2 linked regions of the Homo sapiens genome follow. The protein of the gene in region 1 interacts with the protein of each later gene in a biochemical or structural test. Each region holds a gene or a part of one and is shown on either strand. Other genes may lie near its edges.

The links. Proteins that work in one complex are often made in the same cells at the same time.
Region 2: the proteins of KIT (region 1) and PLCG1 form a complex in vitro, tested with the Homo sapiens proteins (3 studies listed by BioGRID and IntAct, with this or other methods).

What each region holds. Positions count from the first base shown.
Region 1 is NC_000004.12:54,723,947-54,730,983, reverse strand, and holds part of KIT (mast/stem cell growth factor receptor Kit isoform 1 precursor), read right to left. Parts: intron 5,128-7,037; coding exon 4,934-5,127; intron 3,767-4,933; coding exon 3,660-3,766; intron 3,569-3,659; coding exon 3,442-3,568; intron 3,162-3,441; coding exon 3,057-3,161; intron 2,974-3,056; coding exon 2,863-2,973; intron 1,650-2,862; coding exon 1,499-1,649; intron 1-1,498. UniProt on the Homo sapiens protein: Tyrosine-protein kinase that acts as a cell-surface receptor for the cytokine KITLG/SCF and plays an essential role in the regulation of cell survival and proliferation, hematopoiesis, stem cell maintenance, gametogenesis, mast cell development, migration and function, and in melanogenesis.
Region 2 is NC_000020.11:41,161,543-41,168,579, reverse strand, and holds part of PLCG1 (1-phosphatidylinositol 4,5-bisphosphate phosphodiesterase gamma-1), read right to left. Parts: intron 6,129-7,037; coding exon 6,044-6,128; intron 5,939-6,043; coding exon 5,855-5,938; intron 5,623-5,854; coding exon 5,588-5,622; intron 5,378-5,587; coding exon 5,305-5,377; intron 5,203-5,304; coding exon 5,101-5,202; intron 4,866-5,100; coding exon 4,747-4,865; intron 4,660-4,746; coding exon 4,574-4,659; intron 4,500-4,573; coding exon 4,379-4,499; intron 3,648-4,378; coding exon 3,479-3,647; intron 3,336-3,478; coding exon 3,213-3,335; intron 3,131-3,212; coding exon 3,029-3,130; intron 2,942-3,028; coding exon 2,754-2,941; intron 2,387-2,753; coding exon 2,186-2,386; intron 2,105-2,185; coding exon 1,985-2,104; intron 1,902-1,984; coding exon 1,721-1,901; intron 729-1,720; coding exon 651-728; intron 1-650. UniProt on the Homo sapiens protein: Mediates the production of the second messenger molecules diacylglycerol (DAG) and inositol 1,4,5-trisphosphate (IP3). Plays an important role in the regulation of intracellular signaling cascades.

The DNA of each region.
Region 1 (7,037 bases):
CCAGGAGACAAGATGAAAGAAAGACAAAGAAGAGCTTCCAAGACGTGTTATGCAGGAGGCAGAGATCGTTAACATATAGTGACTGATGGAGGAAGGTTTAAAAAAAAATCAAGTTGGTTCAGATAAACACCAATAATTTGGATGATTTTCTGAACCATCTGGACCTCTTCAATCTGCAACATTTGGCTGGAGACTCTTCAAGATTTCTAGTACTTCCTGCTTCTGATTAGCATAGAAACACCATGACAACAATCTCCTTCAGAGTGTGCTGGTGGTTCCAATCCCATATGGGATCCCAAAGCACAAAGAACATCACACAGGATTGAACAATTTAGGCCATTATATCAGAAAGTTAAAGGATATATATAGGGCCAAGGTTTCGGAAAGAAGCAAAATGGCTCATTTCTTCATATAATGAGCACATGCCCAGGAGAAACTAACAAAAAGTGGTTTTGTACAGTTTCTACTACCACTTTAAACTACTCAAGTTTATAGGATTAAAAAAAAATAAAAAGTTTCACCTGGGGTTTTAAACTTTAGCCAGAGGTACAGAAAATGGCTTTAAGGGGTAATTGCCCATCAATAATATTTACTGAGGTCTCCTTGAGGACCTGGTGTTAAGAGTTCAGGAGGCAATGTCTTGCCATTGCAAGATGCAGTGGATATAAAGTGCATGAAAAGGATAGGAGAAATCTACCACACAACTGCAGCAATATACAGTATAGGGGACTGGGCAAAATAACCATGACTTCTGTTGGACTGGGTACATCTAGGAAGTCTTCTCAAATGGTGGCCCTTAAGAGCATTTCCAAAGAAAGAATAGGCAAGATATGAGAAGAATTCTTTTCTGGTTGTAAGTCAAACTCAAAGCTCTTTATACATGATTCAAATTCAGAATGGCATCAATGATGAAAGAGATGAGAATAATGTCCAGAATTTTTAAAAAATGTGCTGGAGTAGTTATGTCTTTTAATAGCATGATGAAATAAAAAGGGCAAGAGGCAAGGTATACAGGAATAATCCAGAGGTCGATGGCAAGAAGCCTACATGTGGAGATATGTTCAGAGCTCTTTGTCATTCTGCTAAAGGTTTTAAAGGGACTTTACTGTGGCAACTTGAGAGGCTTTAGCATTTTCCCTATAAACAGTATCTCACTGGAAACATGCATGTAGTACCAAGCTCAATAGTATAAATGGAAATACATGCAGGACAGAACCGTAAGAGAAACAGATATAGAATGCATTCAGTTGCATGGAACTAAAGTGTAGAAGAAAACTGAAAATACATTTTTAAAAAATCAGCAAAAATCTAGGTTTGAATCTTTAAAAACACAATTTAACTTTCTAAACTGTTAATCACATTTAAATGATTTAATAATTTTGATTTCATACCTCAGAGTACCTCAGTTCATTTTTTAAAGAATCAGCCTTGATTGCAAACCCTTATGACCCCATGAACTGCCTGTCAACAGCTAACTATTTATGTAAATCAGTCTTACCAGGAAGACTCCTTTGAATGCAGAAGATTCTTATAAAGTGCAGCTTCTGCATGATCTTCCTGCTTTGAACAAATAAATGAATCACGTTTTCTTCTCAAAAAATTCAAAAGATCACCATAGCAACAATATTCTGTAATGACCAGGGTGGGCCCTAAAAGCACATAAGAAAAGGTTAGAAAGAAGGTGAGATATATAGATTAATTCTGCCTCCCATAAAAATACCCAAGGGTGGTCATGGCCATTAATATTCAGCTTCAGTGGATCAGACTACTTAGTCCCAATACAATCCCATATATTAACACTGCTTATCAAAAAAGCAGCCTTATGTGGAGTAACATAAAACAAGCAAGCCTCTTTTAACCTGAATTTCTAAGTGACATTAGTATTTGGAGCCAAGCATGACTGCTGGTTTTACAGAGAGAAGTTACTGCTTTCAAAGATTCTACTATTATCAAGCTTCCTACGTGAATCCTCTGGTTCACTTCTGTTTACAGCAGGGCTTCACACACTCTCTGTAACGTTATTATGGAAATAATGAAGGCACAAACTGTGGCATAGTGGGAAAATCAGCCACAAGGAGCAGCCAGCTGGGACAAGACTGGAAAGTGAGTGAAAACCTAAAATGACCTGTGTTCTGAGCGCTACTAGTTGAAAAATTTTTTGGTGCTATGAATGTTTAAACTGTAGTTTAGAAGTAACAGGCAACTAATTAACTTGGGTAAGAAATTTTCTCATGAACAATTCATGATGTGGTGAAGCAACATTTATGGGGATTATTGGAAGACATGATATAAGGCTGTCAACTTTATCGTGGATCTCCAGAAACAGCTCATTTTACACATCTTTGTTTCTTTCAACTGAAATACTTTCTGCAAACATCACAGACATCCTTGATGGGAACTTCAACTAAGGCTTCAAATTGGAAACTTATTTTTAGAGAAGTGAAATGTTTGCCTCATTTGGTGTATATTTGAGAACCAGTAGGCTTAGGCGCCTGTTTTAAATTGTAGTATGCAAATTAATATTAACCCTTTCAGTGGCTACATATGATCAAGAAATGTATAAAGCTTACAAGATAACAGAAGCCTTCTGGTCGGGATGAGATATTCAAGAGGCTGATGTCGTTGATGTTACAAATACGACAATAACTAGGGTATGTCCTGGGCTGTTCTACCCCATAATGATAAAATTAAAATCTGCATTCTTAAGAACAATGAGGAAAACAAAATCTAGCAAGAGAGAACAACAGTCTGGGTAAAAAAATCTTCCAAGCAGTTTATAATCTAGCATTGCCAAAATCATATTAAAATGTCATGTTTTGATAACCTGACAGACAATAAAAGGCAGCTTGGACACGGCTTTACCTCCAATGGTGCAGGCTCCAAGTAGATTCACAATATTCATGTGATTACCAAGGTAACTCAGGACTTTGAGTTCAGACATGAGGGCTTCCCGTTCTGTCAAATGGGCACTCGCTAAAATTGGAAACATGCATTTTAGCAAAAAGCACAACTGGCAAACTGATGTCAAGCGCATGCAGTACCATACAGGAACTTACGCTTGAGCATCTTTACAGCGACAGTCATGGCCGCATCTGACTTAATTAAGCCATAAGCAGTTGCCTCAACAACCTTCCCGAAAGCTCCAGCACCCAGGGTTTTCCCTGTAGGAAGGAAGACAACAAGGTAAGTGGTGATGGTGCTGGTGGTGGAATTGAAGGACCATTTGTGCAGTTTCAAAATCAATAAAGGAATTAAAAACAATGTTGTCCAGAGACATTTTCCTACGATGTTCTCTATGGCAAACCTATCAAAAGGGGCGCAATTTCACAGAAAACTCATTGTTTCAGGTGGAACAAAACAAAGGAAGCCACTGGAGTTCCTTAAAGTCACTGTTATGTGTACCCAAAAAGGTGACATGGAAAGCCCCTGTTTCATACTGACCAAAACTCAGCCTGTTTCTGGGAAACTCCCATTTGTGATCATAAGGAAGTTGTGTTGGGTCTATGTAAACATAATTGTTTCCATTTATCTCCTCAACAACCTTCCACTGTACTTCATACATGGGTTTCTGTGGGGAGAAAGGGAAAAATAGATCACCTTTTAATAATTATTGTCTCAGTCATTAGAGCACTCTGGAGAGAGAACAAATAAATGGTTACCTGTAAATATTTGTAGGTCAGAATCATCACAATAATGCACATCATGCCAGCTACGATTACGAAACCAATCAGCAAAGGAGTGAACAGGGTGTGGGGATGGATTTGCTCTACAATGGAAGAGAAATGTGGAATCACAAACTTTGGCAGGATGGGATCTCTACCACAGCCACTCAGTCCCAAACTGACCCCACCTCCCAACTCACAGCCCATGGCAGGATGCAAAGCTATGTGAGTCTCAGAGCTTCACCTTGGTTACATTGTACTCTTGTTATTCAAATGAATCTTTAAAAATATAACTTGAAACCACAATACTGCAGAATAGAAGTTGAGATTTCTGTAGAAAAGGAATAATTTATGCTGTTTTTCAATGAAAAGCAACATCTGAATGCACTTTATACTTCAATCAAATTCCTGCCTTGTACAACTTTAAAAAAAAGAAGCTTCCTTTATGGACGGTTTATATTTTCTTCTTTAAGCTTTCCTGTATTTTCCAAATTTTCTACACTGAGCATGAATGTCTTTCACAACCAAAAAAAAAAAAAACATTTTTAAGGTATTCTTTTCGTTGCCCTGTCTGAAAAACATGGAAGATTCTTCCCCTCACTACTCAAAACCTGAGAAAACACGCCACTTTTTGGCACTAGTCTTTGCCGACTCAAAAAACGAAAACAACAAACAAACAAACAAAACCCCAAGAAGGCCTAAAAAGTAAGTGCCCAGTTTCTTTGTCTTCCCACTTTGTACCAATTCATCAGTTTGCCCAAAAGATCTTTTAACTTGTTAAGAGAGTTAGTCACACATGAATCAAATTTTAAATATTTTAAAGAAATAACTTGCTAACATGACTTCATAAAGGCAGTGTTAACTTTTGGATACAGTGTCTGGCAAAGTGTTAAAATAATTCATTTTAAATAACTGAAATTTTTAATTGAATTTAAATTTTAGATTGTTCTAATTCTGTTTGGGTGTAAGGTAAATATATTCCCCCATTTGCTTTCTCTAGCTCTTTTTAATGGAGACAATTGTAAATATACAACTAATAGAGACACACATACATATAAAATATATAAAGTAGCATGGTTAAAATTGCTCTGGTAAAAGCATATACTTAACAAGCTAGTACAAAATGAAACTTAGTGAGTTTGATGACAGTATGGTGTGATGCATGTATTACCAGAAATGACATGGTCAATGTTGGAATGAACTTAAAATCATGACTGATATGGTAGACAGAGCCTAAACATCCCCTTAAATTGGATTAAAAAGAAATATACCTTTGTTGTTACCTTTAAATGCAAAGTTAAAATAGGCAGAAGTCTTGCCCACATCGTTGTAAGCCTTACATTCAACCGTGCCATTGTGCTTGAATGCACTAGAATCTATAGAACTCTGAACCACTAGCTTTCCAAACGGTGGCCCAGATGAGTTTAGTGTCTGCACATCCACTGGCAGTACAGAAGCAGAGCATCTAAAGGGAAGAAAACAAAAGCCCTGGCTTACTCTAGGAAAATAAATAAATACATAAAACACTTGGGATGTGGCATACTTTTAAAACAAAGTTAGAGGTTCATAATCAACAGAAAATGTCCTTTTACAAGTGTCTAAGAATAAGCACTTTGGTGACCTAGTGAGTGAAAAAAGCACTGGGGAAGAGAAGGCAGAGGAGGCTTCGGAGTCAGATGCGGGTTTGAATCCTGATGAGTTTTTAACCCCCACCAACACTGAGTTTCTACGACTGTAAAACAGGGATAGTAATACCCATTGCAGAGGGTTACTGAAAGGATTGGAAAGGAATTCAATAAAATGGCAGGCATATATGCTGGTACACAGTAGATCCCTAAAATAAACAAGCTTCAAAAGGGTACACGAATGGTTGAAAAGAAATAGCATAGAGGAGGAAAGCATAAAAAATCTTCAAGGGGCCGGGCGCAGTAGCTCACACCTGTAATCTCAGCACTTTAGGAGGCCGAGGTGGGCAGATCACCTGAGGTCAGGAGTTCAAGACCAGACTGGCCAACATGGTGAAACCTCGTCTCTACTAAAAATACAAAAATTAGCTGGGCGTGGTGGCAGGCGCCTGTAATCCCAGCTACTCGGGAGGCTGAGGCAGGAGAATCACTTGAACCCTGGAGGCAGAGGTTGCAGTGAGCCAAGATCACTCCATTGCACTCCAGCCTGGGCAAGAGAGTGAGACTCGGTCTCAACAACAACAACAACAACAAAATCAAGGATGTAGACCAGAAAATAGTCAAAGTGAGGACTGAAGTTTGAGTTCTAAGCAGGAAGGCCTAGTTATACTGCAGGTGGCTGAGACCACCACTGCAAGGGATCCTTTTCATGAGCCAGACCCCGACTTCCCTATTCTAAACACCTAGCTATTCCCTGTTTCCTTTCTTAACACCTACATACATTCATTGTTTATTCCATCTATTATGTGTTTCTACCCACTAGAACAAGCTTATCCAACCTGCAGCCCACATGTGGCCCAGGACGGCTTTGAATGCGACCCAACACAAATTCATGAAGCTTAAAACATTATGAGATTTTTTTGCAATTTTTTTTTTTTTTAGCTCATCAGCTATCGTTAGTGTTACTATATTTTATGTGTGGCCTAAGACAGTCGTCTTCTTCCAGTGTAGCCCAGGGAAGCTAAAAGACTGAACACCCCTGCACTAGAACATAAACTCATAAAGGCAAAAAGACTTGGGTGTGTTCTGTCCATTAGAATAGTGTCTGGTACACACTTGCCACTCCCTGTGTATCTACTGAATGAATGCCTGTAACTACAGGGCTTGCTTCTGCTGTGGCCATTCCTCCCAGGGGCCTTGAACCCTACTTAGTATTCCCCAAAAGAAAACACTCTCCTAAACCCCAGCTGAAAACAGCAATCCGATGTAACCCCTTCCAACTTGTTGTGATAAAGAGGCTTATTCCATGAAAAATAAAATTTCTGCGACCATACTAACTATTCAATTGTGATGTTAACCTGGGCTTTTAAAGCCTGAGCATAAAATAGCAATTGATGGATAAAAACAGCTGTGGTGACCCCATTTTCGTCTTCAGGTAATGCAAAAGGGCAATTTAAGGCTTAAGTGTGGATGGTGAGGGGCAAGCAGCACAGTGCCAGATGTTCTCTGTTCAGGGGCTGGGCACATTATCAAGAAGAAACCCTTTTTAAAAGCGGTCGCTTGCAAATGCCATATGTATGTTGTAATTGTGCGATCATTACTTTTTGGTAACTTGGCAATTAACTACTGAGGTAATTTTTTCATGATAACTACAGTCACATTTCCCACACACATTACCTCCTGTGTATAGAATGGAAATCTAATTACTCTGTCCTGCAAAATTGCTTTATCTACCTGCAGGCTAGAAATT
Region 2 (7,037 bases), on another chromosome or scaffold:
AGATATGATCAGAGAGGCAGGGCCTCTGCCAGTGAAATACCTCGGGACCCAGGTGGAACCTTAAGCCCCACCCTGGGCCACAGGGAGAACCTTGAATCCGCTCCCAGGAGTCAGGGCTGGCAGGCCAAGAAGGCAGGGTCTGCAGTGGCCCTGAGTGCCTCCCCGGGACCTGGAAGCATATGGGGCCTGGATGGGACCCTACCACTCATCTGTGAAGTGGAAAGAAAAACTTCCTTCCAGGTCCCCTGGCTGTGGAGGGGAGGGGGTGAGAAATAGGGCCCAGGCCTTTTTAGAGAAAAAGGCAAAACAAAAAAGAACCTGTGTAACAGGGCTCCATGAGGCCGGGGAATGAGTGGCCAGTGTGCCTCCCAGCTCCTACCCCGCTGCTGCCCAGGAAGGAAACAGGGGTCACCCACAGGAGCAGTTTAAAGGGTCACTGCTGACTTAAGGGGTAGGGGCTAGGGAGTGGGTCGGCCCTGGGAGACCTGCGGTCGCTCACCAACCACACATCTCTCACAACCTCTTGGGCCTCGGAAAACCACAACCACCACTTCTCCACAAAGACCACAGATGGCCCAGAACACAGAAATGAAGCCCCAAGCAGCTGGGGACCCTCCCCAGCTTCCTATGCCCAGAGGCCTGAGCTGTACCTTGAAAGTTGGCATAGGGTTTGCCTCTACATAGAAGCCAGGGTTGCGTCCCTCATACAGGGCCCCGTAGTCAGGCTCCTGGAAACAGGACACAATGGGATATGTTAATGCCCCAGAGCCCAGAGGTAGAAAGCAGCTACTGGTTTCTGGAGCAGCTTCCCTTTCCCCCAGTGCAGCAAACTTGCACCTGATCCACAGGGATCCTTCGACCTCAGTAGAGACGGCTTCAGAGGCCTCAGGCCCGGCCTCACTGTTCCCTTTCCTTTCTTCACATTCTTACATGTAAGGCCCAGCCCAGGATTCTAAAATCTCTCAGGTCCTAAATGCCCAAACTCCCAAGTATTTCTGAGCTATGTGCAGGTGGGCCCTTCACAGACTACCCATATTCAGTGCTTTAGTTCAGTGGCTTGTTGGTTCACTGCTGAGCCCAAAGTCAGGAAAAGCCTTCCCACTCCCCACATTCCTCCTGCCGCTCCTCTCCATCACTTGAGTCCCAGGTGCCAGTGGACAACAGGCCTCTCTCTCCCCAGCCAGCCCTGTCTACTGACGACAGCAGTCTCTCAACTGATCTTCTGGTCCTAGACCCCTTCCTTCTGTCCAGGGCCCTTATCACCAGCTGTGCTGCCATGGGTCCTGACTTTTTCCCTCACTGGTCTCACCTCCTGTGGCTCTGCCCTCCATACCATCCACCAGGCGGAGGCTCCACAACCACTCTTGGGTAGCCTCATCTCATCTGCCCTAGGACAGAGTCCAGGCCAAGCCCAGGTGGATGAGTTTCCACTGTGTGCACCTCTCCCAGTGTGAGCCCCAGAACCTCCTCACTCCACATCTTGACTCATGAGGAACCCTCTGCTTATGTGCCTGTCCCCATCCTTAAAGATGCTGCTCAGATGTCCCCTCCTGCAGACACCCTCCTGGTACCCACACTGTGGCTCCCAGCTGGAGTCAGGGGCCCTCCCACGAACTTCTACAACACACCAGGTCTTGCTGTTACACACATCCAGAGACTGGTAAGATTCTGGGTCTCTCCTGCCTCCCCTGCCATGCCCCGTCTACCACAGCCCCCTCACAGCTGTGCCAATCTTCTCCAGTGCCTCCTCGTTGATGGGATAGCGCAGCTTCATCTTGCGGTATAGCGGGTGTTTCTCATAGTAGCTGATGAGGTCAACAAGGCTGTCGAACTCCGAGTTCCCTAGCATCACTGTCTGGCCCTCTTGCTGGACACGGCAATGCTTGATCTTGCCCTCAGCCCTTCACAAGGACAAAACAGTCACACAGGGTCAGGGCAGCTCAGACCCAAGCAAGGCCCCACAACCCAGTGCCACACCCCTCACCGGAAAGAGATGGCATATGAGTTGGGTTCATTCCGCTTCCGCACCAGGAAGGCCCCATCACGAGGGACGCGCATTAGCATGTGCTCAGCCTGTGCTCTGGTCAGGCTCGCGTGGTACCACCTGAGAACAGGCAGAGTCAGGCCCGGCCAGCACCACCCATGGCCCTGCCCTGCCTTGTCCGCCCCCAGGCCCTTCCCTCACTCTTTGCTCTCGTGGGCGTTGGTCTGTGGGACAGGCTCTGAAAGTCGCATCTCAAACTCATTACAGCGCAGGGGCACCTGCTGGTAGTGCGTGATGAGGTCATAGAGGGAGTCAAAGACGAGGTTGTCTGTCAAGAAGAACTTGGGGGTCCCAGCATCTTGCCGGGAGTGGATACGGCAGTGCTGGACTTTCCCGTTCCGCCTGTGGAAGACACAGAGTGAGGGAGGCTGGGGAAAACAGGCCAGGGCCCCAAAGACCAAGTTCCACCCCAAATGAGGGTGGAACTCAAGGAGGGAGCCTCAAGGAGGGAGGCCAATCTCCTGAGGAGCTCAGGTGTGGGCAGTCACATGAACCAAAGGTGTGGGCTTCAAATGAACCGAAAAGGGAGGGGTATGGGGGGGGGGTGAGACAGAGAGTGTGTGTGTGTATGTAGGTGAAATTATGTTCCATGTAAAGCCTAATTATTGTCCTGGATCAAAGGCTCAAATGTTAACTGATTATCTCTGGGTGATGTGATGTCTGTGTACACACGCTGACTGAACATACGCATCTGCATGGGAAGTGTTACCAGAAAGAGAGCGTGTAGTCGCCCACGAAGGTCTCACTCTCTCGCACGAGGAAGGAGCCGTCAGGGGCTCCGGTCTCGATGCAGTACTCAGTAAGCAGGCGCTCAGCGATGTGACGCCCGTCACGCCCTGCCCCTAGCTTCCCATGGAACCACTTCTCATTGGAGTGCAGCTCTGTGCTGCTGCTGACCTGTCAGGGGAAGGCAACAGCAAAGATACTGTGACCCTGGCCCAGGCCTGACCTGGCCCAGCCCCCAGACCTGAGCTGGTTCCTCACCTCCTTGGGCTCCTCCTCATCCTCGTTGCCCTGGTCACTGCTGGTCTCCTCAGAGTAGTAGATCTTGCTGCTGGTCAGAACAAAGTAGTGGGGATACCATTCCTGGAACAGACCAAAGAGGGACTTGTGAGCCAGGGTCCTCACACCCACTGGCCTACCACCCCCAGCCTGGCCCAGTCCTCACGTGGTTCACAGGGTCCTCCAGGTAGAGGATGCCATTCTTGATAGAGTTGCTGATGTCGTTCTCAGAGTACATCATGGATGTAGGCACCTCCTCGTAGGCACTGCCCTCAGCCAGCTTCTTGTGCTGTAGGGGCAACCAGAACAGGGCAATGCAGACCCCAGTCCTCACCCCACCTCCTCACCCAGGTTTAGGCCCAACAGCTGAAGCCATGGCCTGGGCAAGGCACTGAGAAGTGTGGGGCTTCCGCAATAAGCCCGCCACCCCACCTTGATGAGGATCTTCCTCTTAAGCTGGTTGGGTGAGGGGAGCCCGTCGGCAGAGATCTCCACGGGCTTGGTGAGGAGTGTGTCCCCCAGCACCTTCTTGAAGTATTGGGCCATGTTTCTCTGCTGGGCAATGCTGCAGTGGTCCTCAATGGACAGGATGACTGGGTACCTGCGGGATGGGGGACAAGCACAGTGAAACAGATTCTGCAATTCTCTGGGTCTAAGTAGCCCCTCACAGTGAGCTGTTGGAAGCCAAGGGCCTGGGGGCTTCTTGTCTGTAAAAACTATCCCAGAAAAGAGGCAGGCCATAGCCACTGGTGGGGCAGAGAGGGGTTCTACAGCTGTGGCAGCAGTGGAAACCAAAGGGTGGCAACTGATGCAGTCCCGAGCTGGCCCAATTATGGAGGCTGCTCAGCAGTGCAAGAAAAATGTTTCACACCAAAGAGGCCAGGAGAGAGGAGAAGCCTCCAAAGTTAGCTGTTAGAGCCCTGGTGAGCTAAGGGAGACCAGTGACCACAGTTTAAGCAGTAAACAGAATTGAAGGAATGGGACACAGGGAACAGAGACAATCTTCTGGGCTGTGAGGGCAAAGGAGTTGGCAGGACACTGGCCTAAAGAAACCAGGGCATGTTTTCTGAAGATGAGAAGAGCATGTGTTCTACAGTCTAAAGGACCCATGAAGAAGAGAGTGGGCCCAACACGTAGGAAACAGAAAGTGTAACTTGGGAAGCAACAGCTCAAGCAGGGAGCAGGTGACGAGGAGAGGCCAAGAGGAAGGACAAAGATGAAAGGCTGAGGGAGAGGGGACAGGGCATTTGAGGAGTCTTTCTGCCCTCTGTCCCTCTAGAACGAGAGACCTGGAGCCAAGTTAACCCCTGGGTCATCCAGCCTCCGACTCACTCTGAGGCCACAAAGGCATGCTCCTTGATGGTGTGCAGGACATCTGAGAACTTGATCTTGGTGGTAAGGGTGTGCCCATGGTAAATAACTGGCATCCCATCCGGGCCGTCCCAGCAGTCCACTGGGGAGCAACATCACCATGGTCAAGCGGGCAGGCCTCCCATCTTCCCTCCCCCAGCCCTGGACCCCACGCACACTCAATGCAGCGACAGCCCATCCGCAGGCAGCGAGCATAGGCTTCCAAGGAGGACTCACTGGAGAACTGGTCCCCGGTCAGGTACCTGGATAGGCAAGGAGAGGCAGGTAGGTATGGTCAGATGGGCCCTCCTGGGGAAGAAGCTGGGTGGGCCTGAAGGAGCCACACTCACGTGTTGTGCGAGGAGGAGATCCAGTAGTGGGAAAGAGGGTTGTTCATGGTGTCCGGGCATACTGCATCCAGCTGCGAGTTCCACACACTGTTCTCTTTGGAGAACAGGAAGGTGACAAACTGTCCAGAAACATGTGGAAGGGAAGAGACAGTGAGTCCCTGCCCTGTCCAACCCAAGATGGTAGGTTGGGGGTAGGAGAGAGAGTGCTCTGTCCCAACTGGGGGTGGGCAAGGTGCACAGTAGGTAGAAACAAGGTGGCATCCCTAAGGAGCGTCTAGCTCCTGGAGCCCGGGTGGGGTCCTGGTCACCCCTACTCATTCTCTTGACAAAAAATGGGTGAAACATCGGGCTCACCTCATCCAGGAAGAAGTATGGCTCCTCGATCTCTCGTAAGGGGTCTCGGAGGAAGCTGAGCATGAACTCCTGCACCTGGAGGCGATCAACAGCCCACAGCTCCTGATGGGGTAGGGAGGGCAGGGGATGAGAGAAGCCTCCAGTCAGGGATGAGCCCAGCCCCCCACAACCTACCAGCCTGGGCCAATGTCAGCCCAGCCATACCCCCTGGTAGTCAAGAAGGAACTGCTGGAACTCAGGAAGGGACACTCGGCAAAGCTCCGGCCGCTCCCCAGCCCTGCAGGGAGAGAAGGTAAGCTAGCTAGTATGGTCAACAGACAACAAGGTGCCCCACGGAAGGCAGAACCCAACTCCCAGCCAGCACAGCTTCCCAGAATGGTCCAGCATGGTTCCCTACTCCCACTGCCTCCCACCTGGATCAAGAATCGCCCAGTGGAGAGATGAAGGGGGCCCAGGGAAAACCCCACCTCCCCACTCCAAACCAAACCTCAGAGTACTGGCTTCCAAGAAGGGGAGGTCCATCTGCAGGAAACAGAACCTGGTCAGGGCAAGACCCCTGGGAGGCCATGTGGGAAATGGGCTAGTAAGAAGGCAGGCTAGAGCAGCAGATGGGGGCAGGCCTCAAGAGGAGAAGAACTGGAGAAATGGCACCCAAAAGCCCCTAAGCAGGGCAGCAGGGCTGAGGCAGGCAGAGCTGGGGTGTGGGGTGGAAGAGCAGGGGCAGGGGTTGAGGGAGGGCAGGTGGCTCATGCACCGTCTTCTGGGCGCTGTACATGAGGCTGCGGTACAGCTGAGCAAACTGCCCGTAGGTGATGTCCCCGCTGCGCTGCTCCAGGTCCTGCATGGTATAGAGCAGGAGTGCCAGTCAGGCAGTCAGGCCCCCAGCTGAAGGGCTCTTGGCTTCCCCTGCCCCCATCTACAGACAGCCCTGGGTGGCACTTACCGTCAGCCGCTCTCGGAGGAAGCGCATGTTGGGGACCCGGTAGTTGACCTGGGACAGCATGTTCTTCAGGTCCTTGGCTGATATACTGAGAAAACAGGGACATCCCCAGTGGTCTCATCCAGCTTCTCATGACCTCTGACCTGTGGGTCGAGCCCACCTGGGGCTGGACAGGTAAACAACACTATTCTGGGAACCTGGAGGCCTGAGGGCAAGACTGGATCAGAACCCATGGGGTGAGGTTAGTCCCTTCCTTTCTTTGGACCTCAGTTCCTCATCTGAGCAAAAAAAAAAAAAAAAAAAACAAAAACAAAACAAACAAAAAAAACCTGTAATTCTGGCAAGGAAGATGTGAACAGATTCAGTAAAGTGGGTCAGGCATGGGAGGAAGAAAAACCACACTCCAGGCCTCCCCTCCTACCGGCACTGCTGAGGCCTGTGCCAAGGTGGCAGTCAGCCTATCCAAGACAGAAGGCAGGGCTCACTCACAACTTCCCTGTTGGGGGCAGCATGGCAGCAGGTCCCTACCTGCTGCCCACTGGGATGCTGGGAGTTTGGTCCTCAGAACCCACTAACCCATGAGAGGGAGGAAGGAGGAGGTGCATGCTCCACCAAATACAATGACTGGCAACTGGGCACCTCCTGGGGCTAGACAGGGCCTGGCTCCAGGAAAGAAACTGAGAGAACAAGCGCCCCTGCTCTCCAGGGGTGTCCTGCCCAGGATGTGAGGCTGGGGACACTGCTGGACCTGGCAACAGGATGGACAAGAAGGGGGAAGGGGGGGGCTTTCTCTCCTGGAAGGTGGTGTCAAGGAGGGGAGGGGAGGGTGGGACCACCTCCTCTGGGCCCCAAGAGCCTGGGAGGAGGCACCAAAATTCCCCGAGGGGGCTGAGCGCCACACTGAGTGGATCAAGCACTGCGGAGGGAGGGCTGGCTCTATATAGGCGCCCCCTCCTCTGATCCTCAGTCACCCAGGAGGTAGGTGCTATCAGGGTCC